2 separate regions of the Homo sapiens genome follow, and region 1 is linked to region 2. The links come from fine-mapping of genetic effects on gene expression. Tissue or cell type: whole blood. Region 2 holds a variant in brackets; the other region holds the start of a gene. All regions are shown on one strand. Distances are between the middles of the regions.

Region 1 (10,887 bases), 49 kb after region 2:
CATATGAGTATTAGGTAATTTTTGGCAGGCTGAATTCTCCTCAAAATTTTAATTCCTTTTTTGCTGTATTCAGTGTTGGTTTTAACTTTATTTTTTATTTTTTATTATTTTTATTATTTTTTTTACGACGGAGTCTCGCTCTGTTGCCTAGGCTGGAGTACAGTGGCATGATCTCGGCTCACTGTAACCTTTACCTCCTGTGTTCGAGAGATTCTCCTGCCTCAGCCTCCAGAGTAGCTGGGATTACAGGTGTGTGCTACCACACCTGGCTAAATTTTTTGTATTTTTAGTAGAGACAGGGTTTCATCATGTTGGCCAAGCTGGTCTTGAACTCCTGACCTCAAATGATCCGCCCGCCTTGGGCTCCCAAAGTGCTGGGATTACAGGCATGAGCCACCGCGCCTGCCAATGTTGGTTTTAACTTTGAAATGCAACTTTAAAAGTTTTGGGGAGCTGATGAGAAAAAAGGATTTAGCTGCTTGAGTTAAATCATGTTTAAGTTTCCACTCTGGTGAACTTCGAACATGTGAGAGCTGTCCAGCAACGTGCAGTGCAGACTTCACGCACCGGCAGCGTCCTCTGACTGTAACCACGATGTGCGCCAGGACTGTGGGAGCTGGGGAGGGAATAACTGCAGGTAGGGAAGGCGGACTGAGGAAACGAATGACATGACCAGCGCATAATGATTCCATTCTGCCCAGGCTCTCACCTTCTGTCTGTCCTTTGACCCACTGGTTTATGGTCTTCCTTGCATCTTCAGAGGCATGCTGAAAATCCACACTGGCCAGGTCAGCACCATATGTTTTCTGAGTCGAAACCAAGAACTCCTATTAAAAAAAAGGAAAAGGAAATATATATATAACTCCTACTACATATAGAAATTGTTTTCTAAAATCCCAAAAAGCAACAGAAATTGTCCTAAAAGGCTACAATTCCATGTAACACAAAATTTCTAACTCTTATAGTTTTTCTTATAGTAGTAAAAATCATTTAACATTAAATTTACGATCTTAGCCACTTTTAACTGTGCATTCCAGTAGTGGTAAGCCTAACCCTTATACTGTTGTTGTTATATAGAAATTACCACTCTTTTCTGAACTTTGACTAAGATTTCACAAACACTGATTGTACTCTTGCTTCAGTAAAACCTCCAAGAGCTATCTTTTCACTAAAAAGACTGTAACACAAAATCACCATGTCAATTAAAGTTTGCATTCTGTCGTGTTTGCCTTCCATATTGTTTTTGCCATGTTTGCCTTCTGTATTGTTTTTCTGAAAGTTTACAAATATTAAAACTGACCTCCATGACTTGATTGTGCTGGAAAATATCTGCACTGTCTAGTGGGGTTTTAGAATGTGAAGGGCAAAGTACTTACAGGAAGGAAATTGTAAGTTTTCTCTCCATATAATCTATTAGCAAGTTTCAGAATATAAGACGCTCCACGTTTGTTGATATCAGCATTCAGACTCTGGAATCTTGAATGAACCTCTTCAACCGTGTTGAAATGGAAAGTCTAAAATAAAGAAAATCTTCTTTCTACAACCATTTATTTTGAAACTATAAAGTGATTCCTTGGTGTTTCCTTCTATCACATTAAATTAATGTGTTTTTATTACTAATTATTGATGATCCCAAACCCAATACTTTATTAATTTGTCATTGCAGAACAAACAATAGGAAATCCAAAATTTATGGCTTCGTGAGACAGAATGTTTACAACTTTACACATTGCTTTTACATCACTCTTTGTTACACTTGCAGTTCCACAAATGTGGGTGGTTAAGATACTAAATATTTATATATAAGTCTGCCTTTTCCAAAGAAAATAATAAATGGTATGTTCATATTTATATTCTGTATCAAATATAATTTTACTGAAAGTTCTCAGAAATAAGCAGTAAAAATAGGATTCATCCTCTATTCAGAACCACAAAGATAGTACAGACTGAAGCTTTTAAAATTTTATTACCCTATTAACATCAGTAACTCACTTATTTTAAAATAACTTCCTTAAACTTAACATTCTGGCAAAAGTTTAATTCCCCATGTATCAGTTACAAATCAAGAGGCCCTTTGTGGTTTTATGAGACCTAGGCTGGTTCCTTTATGATTAAGACACAAAGAACAAAATTGCATAGGGTACGAAGTCCACATTACTCACCGAGATATGGAATGTTTGCACTGTGCCTATGCTCCATCTGCTTTAATGGAAATGGGGGAGGAGTCCTTAAAACTATTCTTTGCTGAGGTTTTAAAGTCCCTGGAAAACCTCAAGCTAGGAACTGATATAACCCTGCAAGAAGCAACTAACAATTAGTAACAGAGGTTTTTTTTTTTTAATGGATTTAAAAAAAACATTTAAAATGCTTTCATATCTAAAGTGATGAGTAATAGAAGTTTCGCAGCCCCTTGAACTTGAATCCCAGGCTGCACCTTGCCAAGGAACAGGTGCAGTGTAATTTGCGGCAGGTATGTTAGAAGAGCCTCCACTTTTACCACTCCTTTCTGCTGAGCTTAGAGAGAGAGAGCTAGAGTTCTCTTCTCAGAATTAAAGAGTACCAAGCACAGAAGTCCTCTCCATGTCCATTATGGACAAGAAGGAAGGCTGGGCATGAGAGTGACCTGTCACATCGCCAAGGGCTGGGTCCCGCCCCTGAAGCTGCGGGTCTCCCCCTCACCTCCCCTGCAGGGCGTGCTATGCCACAGCCCACTGAGCCATGCGCAGCACCCTGGGACTACAGAACCACAGGGTCACTTTTTCTCTTTTCCTTGCAAAAAAGCAATGCCACTATCTCCACTATAATGCATTCCCTATGTCTTATTCCTCTCATTATGCTTGAAAGTAGTGTTATATAACAGGCAATATTTATGAGTTGCATATCATCATATGCAAAGCAAAAACTGGAAGATGCTAGCTCAGGAGGATGTAGTATGCCTTTCAGGAAAGCTGTCAGATTCATCCACTGGAACAGAAGCCTCGCCCTGCAGGGATTTTTGTCAGCTTTGCTCACTGCTGTCTCCTCAGCAATACGAAAAACAGTTCCTGGTACGTGGTAGGTACTTAGGAAAAACCTGATGATGAATGGAAGCCTGCATACAAGTGTGACTTTTCTGAAAGTCTGATCTCATAAAAATACAGTTCTGAAAACACAAGGTAAGAGCTCAAAGGCACAACCTTTCCATGCAGACTGTCCATTCGTAGGGAGATGGGAGGAAAGCAGACCCTTTTTTTTGTTTCTGCTGACCTTGGACAGCTGTGCTGCCGTGTTACCTCTGGTCCCCAGAAAAACCATGGCCATAGCAGATGAAATGCTGAAGGGAGAGATGAAGATGTTTCCAGCCGGATTGTTCTCACTCAACGCCAGGAACAGGTCCAAGGCGAAGCGGGTGTTTGCTGAGCTCAGCTGCTCCATGGTGAAAACTGCAACACAGAACAGGGTCCTCATGGTGCCCACTGCCCACGCCAGCAGATTAGGCAGCACTATTTCTCCAGAAGCTTCCTCAATTTCTGCCAACCGCCCTGAGGCATCCTGGATCTTGTACTTTCTCCCCGCTTTTTTATTCCAGCAGGGCAAGAACACTTTCCCAGGCCCACAAATGTGGGACCATTCTGGCCAAGGACTCAGCAGTTATAGGGGATTTTAGGGCACCCAGGGTGCCCTAAAGGGCTCTGACCTTGCAGACAGGTGAGTCTGGGGGTGGGGCGGGGGTAAGGCAGGCCCCAGCTACCCCAGCTTTAGTGGGGTGGGAGGGCCCACCCAGCCCTGGGTCTTCCCAACCTATGTGTGGGAGCGCACGTGCTTCTGAGCCTTTGATTCAAGTCTCTGATTCATTGGGCAATGAATCCATTGCCTACCTTCACCTGAACTAAGAGCCTTCTATCAGAGACTCAGCTACCTACTATGCATTAAAACTCCAGCAAAGGTATCACTGTAATTATTATAATAATATAATTCTTCCTTATTTTTGAGGTTCAAAAGGTATGAGGTCCAGTGCCCACAGTCTCAGAGCCGGTGTAGGATGTGCCAGTTTGGAAACCCACCACAGTCCAGGGTCTGGCCGTGCAGCGTCCCATCCGCCACCCACTAGCCCATCTCGATCTCCACTCTCAGAGCCCTGATTTCCCCCGAGGACAGGCAAAGAAGAACCGTGCTGGCTGCTCGGCATGTAAGCACAAAGCTGATTTCTCCTTGTTGTGAAATCGTCTCTAGAATCGCACGGGGTTCCTCCTCTCTCTCCCTGCAGCTGCAGATAGGAGCCGCGGCCTGGCCCTGGGCTGCCTGGAAACCGTCACAAACAGCTCTGGGAGGAAGGGAATTCAGGGAGAAGGGACAACATTCTGATCTCAGGTTTCAGTCTTGCCTTCCGCCTGCATCTGTCGTCCTCCCTCCCTCCCTCCCTCGCGGGCTGGCCCGGCCTGTACCCAGGCGGGGGCGGGGGATCAGAGGTCGTCTGTCTCCGTCGGGGCGCCCGGAAGGGATGGGGGCGCGAAGCTGGCGGGGAGGGCGAGCGCAGGGAGCTGCGGGTCTGAGGGGCCTGAGCCTGGGGGGTGGGGGGTGCCGGGCTGGAAGCTGAGCGAGGGAGCCTGGCCTCTCCCCGCGCCCGCCCCCGCGCCACCGCTCCGAGGCCCGGCCTTACCCGACAGGCCGCCGAGGCACGCTCCGGGCTCCGAGCTGGGTGCGAGGTCAGGAAGGAGGCACCGAGGGCCGCTGCTCTTATAGCAGGCGGAAGCGTCACCCGGGCCAGCAGCCGCGGGCGGGGCGGCGGCCCTTCCCGGTGACTGCGTAGGAGTCCGAGCTCCCGAGGTCGCCTAAGTGCAAGCAGAAGTGAGCGTGGCTTCCGGGCAGCGCCCTCCTCAGGGGCGCGGCTTCTTTCTCAGTTCAAAGCCTTTCCCCGAATCTCTGGCAAGGACCTGAAAAGCTTTTTCTTACTAAGGTGTGAATGACTGAGACGACATATTGTGACACCTCTTAGAGGGCAAATGACTCCCTTTGAGTCCCATCTATATTGGGAGCTTTCTTTGAGAGAAGGAAGCAAATTTGGGGATCTTGCACAGGGAAAAAGAGGGGCCCCCAGAATCAGATGAAACAGAACCAGTTCCAAACACCTGCTCTCTGTTTCCAAGATGACAGCTTGCTGCTGCGTCCTCAATGGTGGAAAGTGGAAGGGCAAAAGGGGCCAAATCTCATGTGAAGTCTCTCGTATAAGGGGCCAATCCCATTCATGAGGAAGGTGCCCTCATAATCCAGTCACCTCCTAAAGGCACCACCTGTTAGTATTGCATTGAGGATTGTTTCAGCATGAATTTTGCAGGGAACACAGACATTCAAAGCATAGCATTCTGCCCCTGCCCTCCAAATTCATACCCCTCTCACATGCAAAATGCATGCATTGTATCCCAGTGGCCTCCAAAGTTCCAGTATCAACTTTAAAATGTAAGTCCAAAGTCTCACCTAAATATCTTCTAAATTAGAAAGGCATAAGATTCAAAGTACAATTCATCCTAAGTGAAATTCCCCTCCAGCTATGAGCCCGTGAAATCAAATAGGTTACAGGCCTTCAAAATACAGTGATGAGACAGGCATAGGACGTACATTCCCATTCCCAAAGGGAGAAGCAGGCAAGAAGAAAGGAGTATCTGGTCCCAAGTAAGTCCAAACCCAACAAGGCAAACAGCATTAAATCTTGGGGCTTCAGAATAATCTTCTTTGATGCTGTGTCCCCCATTCCGAGCACAGGGGGGTGGAGACTGGGTCCCCTAGTGTCCAGGGGATCCACTCCCATGGATTTGCCAGGTGCAACCCATGCAGCAGCTCTCACAGGTTGAGGTCTAGGCTCTCCCAGGATAGACTTGCATGCTGGTGGCTGGACAGTTCTGGGTTCTCAGGGACAGCCCTGTTCCCACAGCTCCACTAGATATTACTCTATTTGGGGCTCTCTGCAGTGGCCCCAATCCCACTGCTCCACTAAACATTGCCCTAGTGAGGGTTTTCTGCAGCAGCCTCACCTCAGTGACAATTCTCAGACTGGGCCCCCAGGGTCCCCAACACATCCTTCAAAATCTAGGTGGAGGTGGCTGTGTCTCCACAGTTCATGCACTCTGTGCACCTGCAGAGTTAGCATCACGTGGACTCTGCCAAGGCTTACAGGAAGGGTGGCCTGACAAGGGCCTGCATAAGCCACACGTGGGATGGTGGCCAAAGAGTGCTGCACCAGAATGTGGGGGGTGGGGGGGCAGAGACTTGAGGCAGCCCTAGGCAGCAAGCCCCAAGGTTCCATGGTGTCCTGAGTCCTCCCTTAAAACTATTCTGCCCTCAGGGTCCTGGCACTCTGGGACAGGGATGAGAATCCAGAACCAGTAACCTCAGAAATGCCTTTGGGTTCATTCTTCCATTGTCTTGATAAATAGCATCTGGCTTCCTTCTACACATACTCATCTCATTATCAAATGTGAACCTGGCAGCACTCTTGGTGTTCCCTCCCAAACATGCCTTTTCATTCTTTACATGGCCAGGCTGAGAATTTTCCAAAACTTTAAGCTCTGCTTCCCTCTTGATTATAAACTTCGTTTTTAATTCATTCTCTCTGCTCACATTTTACTACAAGCAGTCAAGAGAAGCCATGCTGCACTCTCAACGCTTTGCTCAGAGATTTCTTCCATCAAATATCCTAGTTTATTGCCTTTAAGTTCTGCCATTCAGAAAACACTAGGACATAGACACAATTCAGCCAAGTTCATTGCCACTGTGTAACAAGGATGACCTTTCCTCCAGTTTCCTTTTAAGATCTCATCAAAAGTGTCTTTACCATCTATACTTCTAACCGCATTCTGATCAAGACCAGACCACTTAATTAATCTCTAAGATGATTTAGGCTCTCCCTACAGCTCTCCTTGTCTTCTGAGCCCTCACCCTTAATTTCCCTTAAAGCTCTGTTTATGTCTATACAGGCTTTTTCCAGCATGCATCTCCAAATTCTTCCAGCCTCTACCCATTACTCAGTTTCAAAGCTGTTTCCACATATTTAGGTATTAGTTATAGCAACATCCCATTCTCAGTATCAATTTCTGTCATAGTCCATTTGTGCTGCTATAAATACCTGTGATTGGGCAATTTATTAAAAACAGAAATGTATTGCTCACAGTTCTGGAGGCTGGGAAGTCCAAGAATAAGGCATCCACATATTTGGTGCCTGGTGTGGGCTGCTCTCTGCTTCCAAAATGGCACCTTGTTGCTGCATCCAAGGGGGAAATATACTGTATCTTCACGTGGCGGTGGGAGGGATGGAAAGGGATGAACGCACTCCCTCAAGGGCCCAAATCCCACCCATGACGGTTCTGCCCTCATGACTTAAGCACTTCTTAAGGCTCTACCTCTTAATACTATCACATTGGTGATAAAGTTTCAACATATGAATTTTGGGGAGACACATTCAGCCCATAAAACATCTGTTCTGTCAGGTGAGGACACAGCATTTGTCCCTTCTGCCTTTCCCACCAAATGAGAACACCGCAAGAAAATGCCCTCATCAGACACTGAGTCTGCACCTGCAGATCTCGAACTTCCCAGCCTTGGACTTCCCAGCCTCCAGAACTGTAAGAAATAGGTGTCTAGTGTTTACAAGATGTTTTGATAAAGCAGCAGGAAAAGACTAAGACAGGGGCTCTTCTTGAGAAGCCGGCCTTGTTCTTATCCCTCTTGTCTAGGAGAAATGTGTGGACACGGCCACATTACTGCCCCCGAGTCTTCCTAGCCCATCTCATCCAACAATAATATGGAGAAGTGTCAGTCTCCTAAGCGTTTTTCCTTATTCTCCTCCACCTTGAATTATTCCTGAATTATTCCTCCTGCCTCCAGCTCCTGAAAGTAGAACTTAGACTTTTTCTGGCTCTTCAAACGAGCTGCTACTGATCACCCAGAACTCTCAGAAGCATCTTGAGAATTTTTTTCTTCACTCTTCAAGTCATTTTGAATTAGCTTGTTTTCTTGTTCAGTTTAAGAAACTGCTATTAAGTGAATTGTGACACTTTTAATAAACTTGCAGCATGGTGAAATTAAAAGTCTCACAATAGCGTTTTGTAAATATGTTAAATATAATTCTTGTGGGTAAATTATTTCCATGTTGTGCTCGCTGGGTAATATATTTTATTTTAGGTACTAATATATTTTATTTTATTTTATTATTTTATTTAGGTAAAATAAAATAATATATTTTCTTTTAGGTAATTTATTTTAGGTGATTTATTTTAGGTAATATATTTTATTTTATCCTCAAAAGATAAAATGTATAGTAATCCACTAGCAGTTCAGCAACTGGAAATATTTTAAACTCAAAAAAAGCAATTTTTGTGTGCCATAGCCTGTATTTAGTATAGCAAAGGAGAAATATGAAAATAATTATTACATTTGTTTTTAATAAATAATTTTTTGAGCCTGGGCAACATAGGGAGACCCTATCTCTAAAAAACTTTAAAAATTAGCTGGGTGTGGTGGTACACACCTGTGGTCCCAGCTACTTGGGAGGTTGAGGTGAGAGGATCACTTGAACCCAGGAGTTGCATGAGGCTGCAGTGAGCTATGATCGCGCCACTGCACTCCAACCTGAGTGACAAAGTGAGAACCTGTCTCAAAAATAAAAAACAAAAAACACCAAAAAACTAATTTGTAACTTATAAACACAACTAGAAAAATAACACAAAATCATTTTACAGATAATGTTTTCTTATAATAGTCTGAGAATTTTGGGTGAGACTAATTTCATGACAGTGAATAATTTTGGCCCCTGGACAGTGGTTGCAGATAACAAGACGCTTCCAGGAAAGTCTAAAATCATTTACATTTTCCTATCTTAGGCAGCTTACGTGATTGAAATGAGAGAAACAGATAAAATAATCTCTCAGGGTTTCTTCTTTTTTCTTTTCTTTTCTTTTTTTTTTTCTTTTTGAGACGGAGTCTTTTTGTGTTACCCAGACTGGAGTGCAGTGGCACGATCTTGACTCTGCTCACTGCAACCTCCGCCTCCCAGGTTCAAGCGATTCTCCTGCCTCAGCCTCCTGAGTAGTTAGGACTACAGGTGTGCATCACCATGCCCAGCTAATTTTTTGTATTTTTAGTAGAGACAGGGTTTCACGATGTTGGCCAAGCTGGTCTCGAACTCCTGACCTCAAGCAATCTGCCCGCCTCAGCCTCCCAAAGTGCTGGGATTACAAGCAAGCCACCGCGCCTGGCCAGGGTTTCTTTTAGTCCTTTCATTTTCTGCCAAATAATGGAAGAAACCTAGCATTAAAATTTCAGCTGTGTAACACAGCTTCATCCTCCAGAGGGCAGAATTCCATCATTTATAAAATACAAATCACTGGCTTCCGCTGAGACATAAATGCCAGGACATCACGTAATTTCTCCTTTTCAGTCCAGCTTGGTCCTCCTCACTGGGGTACCTAGAATGTCTATAATTTAATTTTCTCTTGCAAATATCCATGTAAGCAGTCCACTGGGGAGTTCCTCTGACCTCGCATCCTTCTTTCCCCCTCATTTCACCAGCTTCCTTTCAGTGTCTCACCTTAGAAGGCTCATTTTCTTTCAGGTCTTTGTCCCTGATATTGCCTCTTTCTAGATGACTCACCCCTTCTTCTAATTCTGGTCTCGGCTCAATGCCACCTCTTCCCTGAGACCTTCCCTGGCTTCTGTTCTCATCCCGAGTTACTTTCTGTTTGCTTTGTAGCCTCAGTCACCATCAGAAACTGGTTGCCTATCTCCTTCAATAGAACATAACATCAGGAGAATAAGGCTTTGACCCAGTTGTTCACTGCTGCGTCCCCAGTATCTAAAACACCTGGCATATAGTAGTTGTTTAGGAAATTTTGCTGAATAAGTGAATGAAGATTATAGCTCAGAACAAACCAAGCCATGTGGACAGATGATACAACATTGCTCAGTTCAGTTTCTTGATGAATGATAAGGAGAATAAAAAGCTCTCTAAACTGCATGGATAGAATAACTATAATTTGAATGAAAATGGAGCCCCAACAAGAGGAATTCAGGTCCCAGTATAAACAGCAAGATACAGGAAGCAAAGTACATGACAGAAACGATCTGCATGGCATAATCATGGTGCAAAAAAGTTTGCCTGGGAATTCAGAACGAAGAATGAGGCGTTCACCGAAGCCTCCGATTATTACTCTGAGGACAAGATAAACAAGAGTAAGCTTATATTGTAATAAAGGATTGGCCGGGCACGGTGGCCCACGCCTATAATCCCAACACTTTGGGAGGCTGAGGCGGGTGGATCACCTGAGGTCAGGAGTTCGAGACCAGCCTGGCCAACATGGAGAAACCCCGTCTCTACTAAAAATACAAAATTAGCCAGGCGTGGTGGTGTGCACCTGTAATCCCAGCTACTCAGGAGGCTGAGGCTCGAGAGTCGCTTGAACCCGGGAGGCGGAGGTTGCGGTGAGCCAAGATCGCGCCACTGCACTCCAGCCTAGGCAACAAGAATGAAACTCCGTCTCAAAAAAAAAAAAAAAAGGATTGTTAGCTGGCTATAAAAATGACCTAAAATTGCCAGGTGCGGTGGCTCATGCCTGTAATCCCAGCACTTTGGGATGGCGAGGCGGGTGGTTCATCTGAGGTCAGGAGTTCGAGACCAGGCTGGCCAACATGGTAAAACCCTGTCTCTACTAAAAATACAAAAATTACCTGGGCGTGGTGGCATATGCTTGTAATCCCAGCTAGTTGGGAGGCTGAGGCAGGAGAATCGCTGGAACCCGGGAGGTGGAGTTTGTAGAGAGCTGAGACTGCGCCACTGCACTCCAGCCTGGGCAACAGAGTGAGACTCTGTCTCAAAAAAAAAGAAAAAAAGAAATGACCTAAAACTGTGGCTCACTTGGG
Region 2 (10,887 bases):
AAAATAACATTTTTACAGGCCAGGCGTGGTGGCTCACACCTGTAATCCCAGCACTTTGGGAGGCCAAGGCAGGTGGATCACGAGGTCAGGAGATCGAGACCATCCTGGCTAACAAGGTGAAACCCCGTCTCTACTAAAAATACAAAAAATTAGCCGGGCGCGGTGGCGGGCGCCTGTAGTCCCAGCTACTCGGGAGGCTAAGGCAGGAGAATGGCGTGAACCCGGGAAGCGGAGCTTGCAGTGAGCCGAGATTGCGCCACTGCAGTCCGCAGTCCAGCCTGGGCGACAGAGCGAGACTCCGTCTCAAAAAAAAAAAAAAAAAAAAAATTTTTGTTGGGGGATGGAGTTACTTCCAAATAAGAAGTGTGCTTGTGATGTAACCGGAGGTGACATTAACTCCTCAACAAGCTTTTCCGTCATGACTCACTCCTGCCAGTTTCCCAAGGGACGGATCCCAGTGGTGGTCAAGGCACAGGTGTGAATTTATGCCAGGACGATATGTGAGCATCGTAACTCAAGCCAACAGATAAGTGATGAGGGCTTTTTGAGATCCATCATCCTATTAGACATGCGGCCCTGAACACAGTGTGTAACGCGGACACGGGGCCTGTGCTGGAGCACGCGGTGCTGGGGAGAGCCTGCAGCACACTTTCTGCTGTATCCAGCAGCGGGGCACTGAGCAGCCAACTTTCTGTAACTGTAAAATCAAGCTTGAAAGTTTGCAAATGCTTGTTTTTTGGTTTCAAAGAATCTTATTTTGTGAAAGCAGATTTTTAAAGTTTTTAAAGCAGATATTCACTGCCTGAATGAATACCTCTCACATACCACAGTGAGCATGACTGAAAGTTTACACCATTAGCTAAACCCTGGGAAAAACTAATGCAGTGAGTCAGAGTTTCTGGTGAGGGAGGCACATCTCTTGCCTGTTTACAGTAGTATTCAACAATTGGGGGCAGCCCTTCCATATGATGCCATTTAAATACCACAAGTTATGGGCCAGGTGCGGTGGCACACACCTGTAATCCCAGCACTTTGGGAGGCTGAGGCGGGCAGGTCACTTGAGATCAGGAGTTTGAGACCAGCCTGGGCAACATGGTGAAACGTCGTTTCTATTAAGTATATAAAAATTGGCTGGGTGTGGTGGCGCACACCTGTAATCTCAGCTACTCAGGAGCCTGAGGCAGGAGAATCGCTTGAACCTGGGAGGTGGAGGTTGCAGTGAGCCGAGATCGCGCCACTGCACTCCAGGCTAGGTGACAGAGTGAGACTCCATCTTAAAAAATAATAATAAATAAGTAAATAAATAAATATCACAAGTTATGTACTGATTCTGAAAAAGCAACATAACCACCAAACACAATTTATTCCTTATGTTCCAAGTGTATTTGGTAGTTTTGTTCACCCTCATAACAGCCAAACCTGAGTTTAAGAACAGTAAGAATAGTGACTTGCAGAGATTTGTTCCAATTGTTACAACAAGAATGGATGTTAACTCATCTTTTCCAGATACAAGTCATCAAACCTGGACAATGTTATCAATTAATTCCAAATGAGAGAACCGGCCTTTTGATACTGATGTTATATTAGAAAGGATGATTTTCCTATACTTTCATATAAATGCCATGGATCTCTTACTTTTTGATGAATTAACCTTTGTGTAGCGACTACAGTTTGAAAGCACTACTACACATTCATAGATGCAGTTCCAGGCAGTTTGAGCCCACAAAGGCATTTATAACTTAAGCAGAAACCAAACAGAAGTAAATATTTTTAATAGAGTTAACAAATCTTCATAAAAACCAATCATTTAAAACTAAATGTTTTGAAGCTCTAAAGCCAGTCAGGCTCCGGGGAGGATGCAGATGATCCCCTCAGGCCACTGAGAAACTTTTAATCAGGGATCACAAGTATTAGAGAGGTATAGGGGAGGTTCAGGGGACCAACACAAGGTGAGAAGCAATTCCCTGGCAAGGCCTGAGAGGCAAGGGGTGGGAGCAGGCAGGGAGCCCTGGGAGAGCAGGAGGTGGCCGGCAGCCTTCAGACAGGAACTGCGGCCCTGAGTGGAGGCAAAGAACTCAGCAGCTGCTGCACCTCTTGAGTAGGGAACCTGGGGGTAGGAGAAGGAAATGCATGGTCTGAATCCTCTCTCTCTTGCCCTCATCTCCTGCCAGTCCCTCCCACTAGCAGGACCAACCAGAAGTTTCCCTGGTTAAAAAGCCAGGCGAGAAGGGTGGAGAATACCCAGTGTGCACAGATCTCTGAAATGAGAACTACTACTGCTCTATTTTAGGAGAAACAAAATTCTTTCTGTGTGATTGTATACCTTGAGAGCCAAGAAGAAGAGTCCGAACAGCTAACAGTCCAGTAAAGTGGCCACATGGAAACAACCCATGAAAATCCATAGCTTCCGGGCCACTACTGTAATCAGAAAAGACACCAAGAAGAATATTCCATTCTCAGTAGCAACCTGGAAAGAAACTGAATTGTAACTGAGGAGTAGGACTTACATGAAGAAAACTACCACACTATACCCTACTATTGAAACACAAGAAAATGCGAACGAAAGTAGAGAGAAGCCGTTTTCCTCAAAGACGTCATCTCAAATTTATTTTTACATTCCCATCATGCTTGGCATGTAGAATGTGATCAGTACATATTTGTTGAATGACAAAATGAGGGGATAAATAAACTTTCCCTAAGATGTGTATGTAGACGTTTGAAAATAGAAGTCTGTCGCTGATGTTTCTGTCCACCAGGAGTCAGGCTTCAGCCAGGAAAGAGTGAGCCAGTGTCTGAGCTGTCTCTCACCAGGCCTTCCACCAGCTCCAGGTCACCAGGTTCAGGCCAAGACTGAGTTTCAGTATTTGTCGTTAACCTGGTAGATAAATAAACAGTTTTAAAGTAGAGCTTATGTATTTGTCTGATTGCAAAAGTAATACATGATCATTGCACATAGGTACAGGAGCAGATGCAAAAAAAAAAAAAAGCAGATAAAAGATAGTAAAAATCAACTTTAACATTTAATATTTTTTCTCAGTGATAACCACTGTAAACATTTTAGTGTATGTCCTTTGGGAATTTTTTCCAATGAGTGTGTGTGTGTGTGTGTGTGTGTGTGTGTGTATGTATGACTACACCATCTGTTTATAGCTTGCTGTTTCTCACCCCCTCACATGATTTCTTACATGCAGAATTAGTCTCTTAGCGTATGACTTTTCATGGTTGAGTTGGAGCCACCACCAGGGAGCTGCACCCTTCCGGTGGTGCACCCCACCAGCCGTGCCATCCACAGAGGGTAGGACACACCAGACACCTAGTAGCTGGATTTATTTATTATATTTTATTTTATTTTTGAGATGGAGTCTCACTCTGTCGCCCAGGCTAGAGTGCAGTGGTGCAATCTCGGCTCACTGCAACCTCTGCCTCCCAGATTCAAGCAGTTCTCCTGCCTCAGCCTCCCGAGTAGCTGGAATTACAGGCACCTGCCACCATGCCCAGCTCATTTTTGTATTTTTAGTAGAGACAGGGTTTCACCATGTTGGTCAGGCTGGTCTCGAACTCCTGACCTCAGGTGATTCACCCACCTCAGCCTCCCAAAGTGCTGGGATTACAGGCATGAGCCACCGTGCCCGGCCTAGAACTGGATTTAATAAGAGAAACAGAGAGCCTCACACCACTCTCCCCTCCTTCAGCACCCTGCCTCCAGGGTTCTTTCGGCTCGCTAGCCAACCACACTTGGTGAGGTGCGTGGGTCCAGGAGTCTGTCTGCTCGGGTTCAAATCCTATCTGAGCCACCTCACCCCGTGACCTTGGTCAAGGTTATTTTCTTTTCCCTCATCTTTAAAATGGGTATCAAAATATTACTTAATCACAATGGAGATTACATGATTCAAATCTGGCATTGCTCAAAGTCATGTCCGGCACACAGTCCATACATGCTGGGTATTGCCATGACTCATTCTCCCCACCCCAGTTCAAGCATCGCTTTCCTCTCAAAGCCTGCGCTGAGCCCTCAGGCTAAGCTTCCCAGCCCAGCGCTGTGCAGCCCCAGGTGCTATTGCTCACCTGGGCTCTGAGCCATTGTGGTGTTCCAGGGCCTTAGGTGGTTATGGACCGGGCACTGCTCTCTCCCTCTGGGCTCTCCCTGGACGCCAGCCTGCATCTCTTTCATTTTCTTCGCTCAGGGGACAGGCTGAACTTGGGGACTGCGGAGGCCTGCAGTCTTCCAAGCACACTTGCTGCTTCATTTTGGCTGGCAGCAGTAATTGCAAACATGTATTCCCTGCCTGCCATATGCTGGGCACCATGCAAAATGTTTTCCATATGTGATCTCAATTTCCAAAAAGACTATATAAGCCGGTGCTGTTAGTACGTCTATTTTACATGGAGAAAAGGCGCACACAACTTAAGATGGCAAAGTGACTTCCTGAGAGTCAGCAGGATGGAAACCCCCAGAGCCGGCCCTGCCCGGCCACCTTGCCAGTGGCTCCAGGTTCTTACATGCATCAGAATCACCTGGAGGACTCGCTAAAAATCCCAGAATTTCTAATTCAGTCCATCTTCAATGGGGCCTAAGAATTTGTGTTTCCAACTATAAGTTCTCAGGTGGTGCTAACGGGGCTGGTCCACACGGACCACACTTTGAGAACAACTTCACCGTGCTATGTGACCTGCCATCAATAGC[C/T]TAGAAATAAGTTTTTGGTGGCAAACAGGCTCTTTTCAGACTCATCTCCTGCCTCTCTACCTGTAGCTGTCATTTATCTTTTCTTCCTTGCTCTAAACACATTCAGTGACTTATGAGGCCTTAAGGAGGTCCTGAGTCTCCATGCCACCTGGGCTTGCCTCCTTTGTCCCCCTCCCCTGTCATTCCTTCTGACACCAGCTGCTGCTTCTCTCCAGGTGTTTGTCATCCACACTTGAAATTGCTGCATGGGTGGGGAACATGGCTGCTGTGTGGCTGTGTGGGCAGGGCAAGGCCCAGGGGGCCTGGCTGAGGGCCGACAGTGAGCAGGCAGAAATCCAGAGGAGAGGATGTCTTTTTCTGTCTCACAAAGGCACACGTGGGCTAGCTGGGCTCTGAGGAAAGAGAGAGGCTTTTGAGCAAGTCCGTTTATGCTTCTTGCCTATTTTGCTTTAGCTTGTGGCTTCCGGTGAAAACACGCCTTCTTACTCATTTGGCTCCTTACTGAGGAATAAAATATACGAATTCCACTCCGTAGCCTGCAAATTCTCTACCTGTCTCATCGCCTCCTCACTGTTGCAGGTAGTTGAGACAAGTACAGTGGAACAGAAAGTCTGTTGGGCCAAGAATAGACTTTCTGGTATGAGATTCCCCAAGTGTGGGGAATGGTGAATGTCAGAAGCTTGAGTAGCAAGTGCACACATGGGGCGGGTCTCTTGTCACTTGTACTGGTTGTGCTCTAGTCACAGTAGGCTCTGAGGAAGCCAGGGTCCATGTGGCCATCTGCTTGAGCAACCTGCAAAGTCCTGGGTGTGGTATTTCTTTACTCTGCATGAAGTTACTCAACTGCCATCTGTATGACTAGCCAACTTTGAAGCAGAAACTATCTGAATTAGAATTCCATATTTCTTCCATTCTCTAATTTTTTTGAAATTCTGCCCCCATGATCTATAAAAAAAATGTGAAGTCTTCACCTAACCATCCACTTCATTAAGTCTCTCCTTCCTCTGCTCACATCACACTGCATAGGTTCTGTCTTTTTGGCTGTGGGTTATAAGCCTTCTGAGGGCAAGCATAGTCATAGTCATGTTCATTCCACAATGTTTGGCTCCTAGTAGCTTTTCAGCAAGTAATTGCTTAACTGACTTTCCCCGCTACAGAAGACGATGCTTTTCAAGAATAGACAATTCCATGTCACAGATAGTGTAGGTGTGAACGTCCCCAGGCTCAGGGCAGTGGATTAGTCATGAGCCGAGATCATTTTTCATGCTCTGGTTTGCACAGTGGAATGACTGGAGTAGCTTAGGATGTGGTATGAATTTCCTACTAGTGCACTAAAAACAGGATTCACATCCCTTCTGCCTTATGATTGTTTATGCAATAACCTCATTGCAAATGTCGTGTTGCTGTACCTTCCCATGATGTTTTAATGAAGTAGAATTTTAAAATATAATTAACGTGCTTAAGGTCATAAATCATAAAACAGATTTGGACAACTTCTGGATCATAGTATTTCAGCCTCTCTAAGCCTCAGTTTCCTTATCTCTTAAAGGAGGATAGATTACAATAATCTCTACAAACTCATGCAGTTTAAAAATACATTGTTGTTGCTGAGGCGGGTGGATCGTGAGGTCAGGAGTTCGAGACCAACCTGACCAACATGGTGAAACCCTGTCTCTACTAAAAATACGAAAATTAGCCAGCCATGGTGGCGTGCACCTGTAATCCCAGCTACTCAGGAGGTTGAGGCAGGAGAATTGCTTGAACCTGGGAGGCGGAGCTTGCAGTGAGCCAAGATTGTGCCATTGCACCCCAGCCTGGGCGACAGAGTGAGACTCCATCTCAAAAAAGTAAGTAAATAAATAAATAAATAAATAAATAAACCAACAACAACAAAACATAGTTGTTATCTGTATCATAAGAACTACTTAAAGGAAAATCTCCATTTTGCTAATGAGTCATTAAATACATATTTTACATCCTTCCAACAAGCTTCCATGTTGAGAAAACTGGCTTTTGAGACAAGGCCATTGTTCAATCTCTGGTAAGTCACTTCACTCATTCAGGCCTCGATTTTCTCAGCTTGGAAGTGGGTATAACAATGACTTCTAGGTTCACTTTTATTTTTTGGCAGGGCCACTTTTACACTGGAAGTTTCTTATGAAAATCAAGTAAGATATGCAGATAAAAATATACTATCAACTGTCAAGTGCTATTTAAATTAAGGCACGATTATTTTGACTGTTTACATGGGAAAGCATTAAGAAATATTAGCGGTTTTCAGAAGCCAGATGCTATGGAAGTCAGAATTGTTTCATTAGCTCACATGATATTCAAATGGGCATGGAATGAACTCCAGTGGGAAAGTGAGCAGTGTGCCCTGTGCCTTCCTCTCCCCCTGTCTCCTTTTCTTCCTCTTTGGAGAAACCTTGGCTCCTTCCTCCTTGGGAGAGAGCAGACCTGGATGGCCACAGATTTTGATGGACGTGCTGCCTTTTGTAAGCAGGAGTTGTCTTGGCCCCTTTGGTAGATTTAGAAGGGTCTGTTACTGCCTGTCTTCCCACTCCATCTGCCCATTCCAGTAACCAGAAACAGGCTTGATTGAGAAGCTAAATTTAGAGAACTCAGGATCATCAAAGAATACTGCTGAACCCGGTGATGGTGCGGAAATCGTGAAATAGCAGAGGAGAGGAGCCCTCAGGACAGTTCATACCAGAAACCTCTTTTCTAGTTTCCTCTGACCTGTGGGTTGTCACCGTGACACAGAACTGGAAAGAGAACAGACGGGGTGTCACAACAGCGAGGCTTATGAAATCTTTGCAAAACTTTCCGCAAGTCAGGCTTGAACTAGGAGTACGAGCTGCCCTCCAGGTGGGTGACACATCTACGACCCCGCAGGACCACCAGCCCCACGCTTTCAGCCAGTGCTGCCCAGAGTGCGGTGCCCGGACCAGCAGCCAGCAACCTGAGCCCATGAGAAATGCAGAACGCGACGCCCAGGCTCGGCCAACTCAGCTGGAATTGCTAAGGAATCTGTGTGAACAAAAGCTCAAGAGATTTTTTTATGCCTCCTTCATTTTAAGAAACAATATTGGCTGGGCGCCGTGGCTCACGCCTGTAATCCCAGCACTTTGGGAGGCCGAGGCGGGTGGATCACGAGGTCAGGAGATCGAGACCATCCTGGCTAATATGGTGAAACCCCATCTCTCCTAAAAATACAAAAAAATTAGCCGGGCGTGGTGGTGGGCGCCTGTAGTCCCAGCTACTCGGGAGGCTGAGGCAGGAGAATGGCGTGAACCCAGGAGGCAGAGCTTGCAGTGAGCCAAGACTGCACCACTGCACTCCAGCCTGGGCGACAGAGCAAGACTCCGTCTAAAAAAAAAAAAAAAAACGAAACAATATTGTAAGTTATGCTCAAAGACTTTTGTGTCAGAATGTCAGGGAAATGGATCACATGGTTCAGTAACTGTCAGATAATTTCAAAACAGCACATCACCTTCCCCAGGCTCTTCTCTTTCTCCTCAAGTGCCTCACTGGGACTCTCCTTCTCTTTTATCTGGAAGCAGAGGCCTTGCAAGGGCTGGCTGATCATCCCACAGTTCCAGCGTTTGCAGGGCAGCACTGGGCATTTTGAAGGGCAGGAAGGAGGAGGGGGTGGGCTGCTCTTGCACCTCCCCTGTGCCCACCTCCAGTCACCAACCCAAAAGCTGCTCTCTAGAGAACAAGTCCAGTCCTCTCTCATCTCCCTGCTGTTCCTCAATTTCAAGTCTCTTTCATAAGGAAATGTCCAAAGCTCTTGAAGGCTGGATGTCTCTCCACTGAGAAGACTCTTACTCAATTCAGATGTCTATGAGGAAATCCCATCACACCTTTTGCTCTGGGCCCACCCATTCCTTCTGGATTTAGGGCCCTCGCGTAGGGAAGAGCCGCGTGGGACAGCCACACATGGTAGAGCCCGCAAGGGCAGCTCCAGGGTTGTGCTCTGTCTGCAGGACCAAGGACACAAGGGAAGCCCCTTGGGGCAGCAAGTGGTCTTGGTGAATTGAGAAACTGAGGCCTCAGCACAGAAGGAAGGAAATGAGAGGAAGCTGGCCAGGTGTGACTCTGGGCTCAGTGGCCTGGAGGCTCAGCACCAGATCCCTTCCTGCAGCTTCCCAGGCCTTCGCTAGCTCCTTCCAGCCAGGAGTTTGAATGCTGGGTGGACCAAGACACCTGAAGTTTCCTACAGTGGCAAGGGTGGGAGAGAAGGGGGTGGCCCTCAGTGATGTAGTCCCTGGAAACTTAGGCAAGAACTGAGAATGAATGTGTCCTCGGCAGGACTGTGCAGCTGTTCTTCCCTCCCTGCTCCCCTCCCAGAACATGTGACAGGTGAAGTTCACAAGCAGCACATTCTTCACAGTTCCCAGGTCCCTGAAATCCCTTGAGACAGCCAACAGCAAGCAAGGTGGGGAGGGACGAAGTCCCAGAAATGACTTCACAAGAATGTACACAAACAACGAAGCCCCAATTTGAATCTCACAGGTTCAGCCCTGGCCTGATCTCACCCAAGGCAGATCTCCTCCTCCTCCTCCTCCTCCTCCTCCTCTTCCTCCTCCTCCTCCTCCTCTTCCTCCTCCTCCTCCTTCTCCTCCTCCTCCCCTGCTCCTACTCCTCCCCTTCCTCCATGCTGCCCTGGGCAGGCTGTGAGAGGAGATGGGGAGAGAGCTGCTGTCACTTTAAAATCAGCCTCTGCTGTGACTTCAAGCTAATCCATCAAACTAACTTCAAATGAATTCCTCCTCTCCATTCAAATATGTTTAAGCTCACAGTTTCTTTTTCTTTGTCTTTTTTTTTTTTTGCATCAAGAAGATACTTTTAAATAAATAGTTGCTAAAATACTTGTGAGGTAGTGATAACTTTGAAATAAATACTATTTTAAACAAAATTCACAGAAAGCCCCCTATTGATTGGAATCATTGCATGCAGTGAGTTGCAATATATTAAATAGATAGCTCCTGCTGCATGCCCGGTGATGTGGCCCCTCTCCTGGGCCGTGGATGGAGACACATTTGCAGAGATCTGCTTGCTTGGCTACCGCAGGCATGGAGGATTCGCGTACGCATGACAGCAACCCCTTTCTCCGGGGACATTTACTCTTCCTCCGGGGACATTTACTCTTCCTCCAAGTGTGTGATGTGAGGGGAGCTGTGGACTCCTCAAGGCCCAGGCTGCCCCGCCCAGCACAGGGAGGAACACTCCCTCCAGGTGGCCTCCTCTCCTGCCCCTTCCTCAGGCCCTAGTCACTCCGTCCAAGGACAGGCTCTTGGTCTAAGTTCTTCCCTGGGAACACAGGAGCAAGCCCTGACTCTTTGGTCATGACGCTCAGAGATGTGAACATGTGTTTCCCGCTACGTGAAGAAGCCAGTGTGAGGAAACAAGGCTGGGAAGAACCCAGCCGAGAGGAGGAGACAGCCAGGGCCCATGCCAGGCCTAGTGACAGGTGTTTCTGACACCCCCCACACCCCTGCCATTTCTGTGGTAGCTTGAAACTTCCAAAAATCCCTTCTTTTGTTTCCTCTTAATCCAGTTTAAATTGGGTTTCAATAACTGGCAACCAAGAGGAGTTATGACCAATGAACAGCAGGGCTAGTGTGGGGGCGGAGCCGGGCCAGGTGGGTTCCAGCCGTGCAGAGGCCCATGAGGCCACGGGTTCAGTAGCTGTCGGGGTGGGTGGAGCGCAGCCCCAGAAACCTCATACCCATTGGGGTACCTTGGTTTATTGGGAACTTGGGCATTTGGATTTTCTTTTTTTTTTTTTTCTTTTTTTTGAGATGGAGTCTCACTCTGTCGCCCAGGCTGGAGTGCAGTGGCATGATCTCAGCTCACTGCAACCTCTGCCTCCTGGGTTAAAGCAGTTCTCCTGCCTCAGCCTCCCAAGTAGCTGGGATTACAGGCACCCGCCACCAAGGCCAGCTAATTCTTGTATTTTTAGTAGAGAGGGGGTTTCACCGTGTTGGCCAGGCTGGTCTCAAACTCCTGACCTCAGGTGATCCGCCCTCCTCGGCCTCCCAAAATAATGCGATTACAGGTGTGAGCCATTGTGGCCAGCCTGGATTTTCTATTGAAAAAGGAAACTCAAAATGTATTTTGAAATGGAGGTAAGCAGAGTGTCTTTGTCTTCAAGAACTATAAAAGTCTGGTGGGAACGTCCTTTTACTCTAGTTTTT

What was found. PIP is the estimated chance that this variant, and not a neighbour inherited with it, causes the effect.
Region 1: it holds the start of SERPINB1, and the variant in region 2 is fine-mapped to the expression of SERPINB1 in whole blood (TOPMed, PIP 0.95).

The regions. Positions count from the first base shown.
Region 1 is chr6:2,837,173-2,848,059 of GRCh38, forward strand. SERPINB1 (serpin family B member 1) reads right to left here and starts at 4,691. Exons shown (of 7, transcript NM_030666.4): 1 at 4,640-4,691; 2 at 3,247-3,422; 3 at 1,377-1,514; 4 at 710-827. The coding sequence starts at 3,414. RefSeq lists a silencer at 4,586-4,635.
Region 2 is chr6:2,788,612-2,799,498 of GRCh38, forward strand. It overlaps LOC124901241 (a long non-coding RNA gene), which reads right to left. Exons shown (of 3, transcript XR_007059408.1): 3 at 2,580-2,875. Among named protein-coding and RNA genes, the nearest start is that of WRNIP1, 29 kb to the left of the region's middle. RefSeq lists an enhancer at 2,624-2,918 and silencers at 2,624-2,918, 9,189-9,293. The variant C/T (reference allele first, on the strand shown) is at 4,685.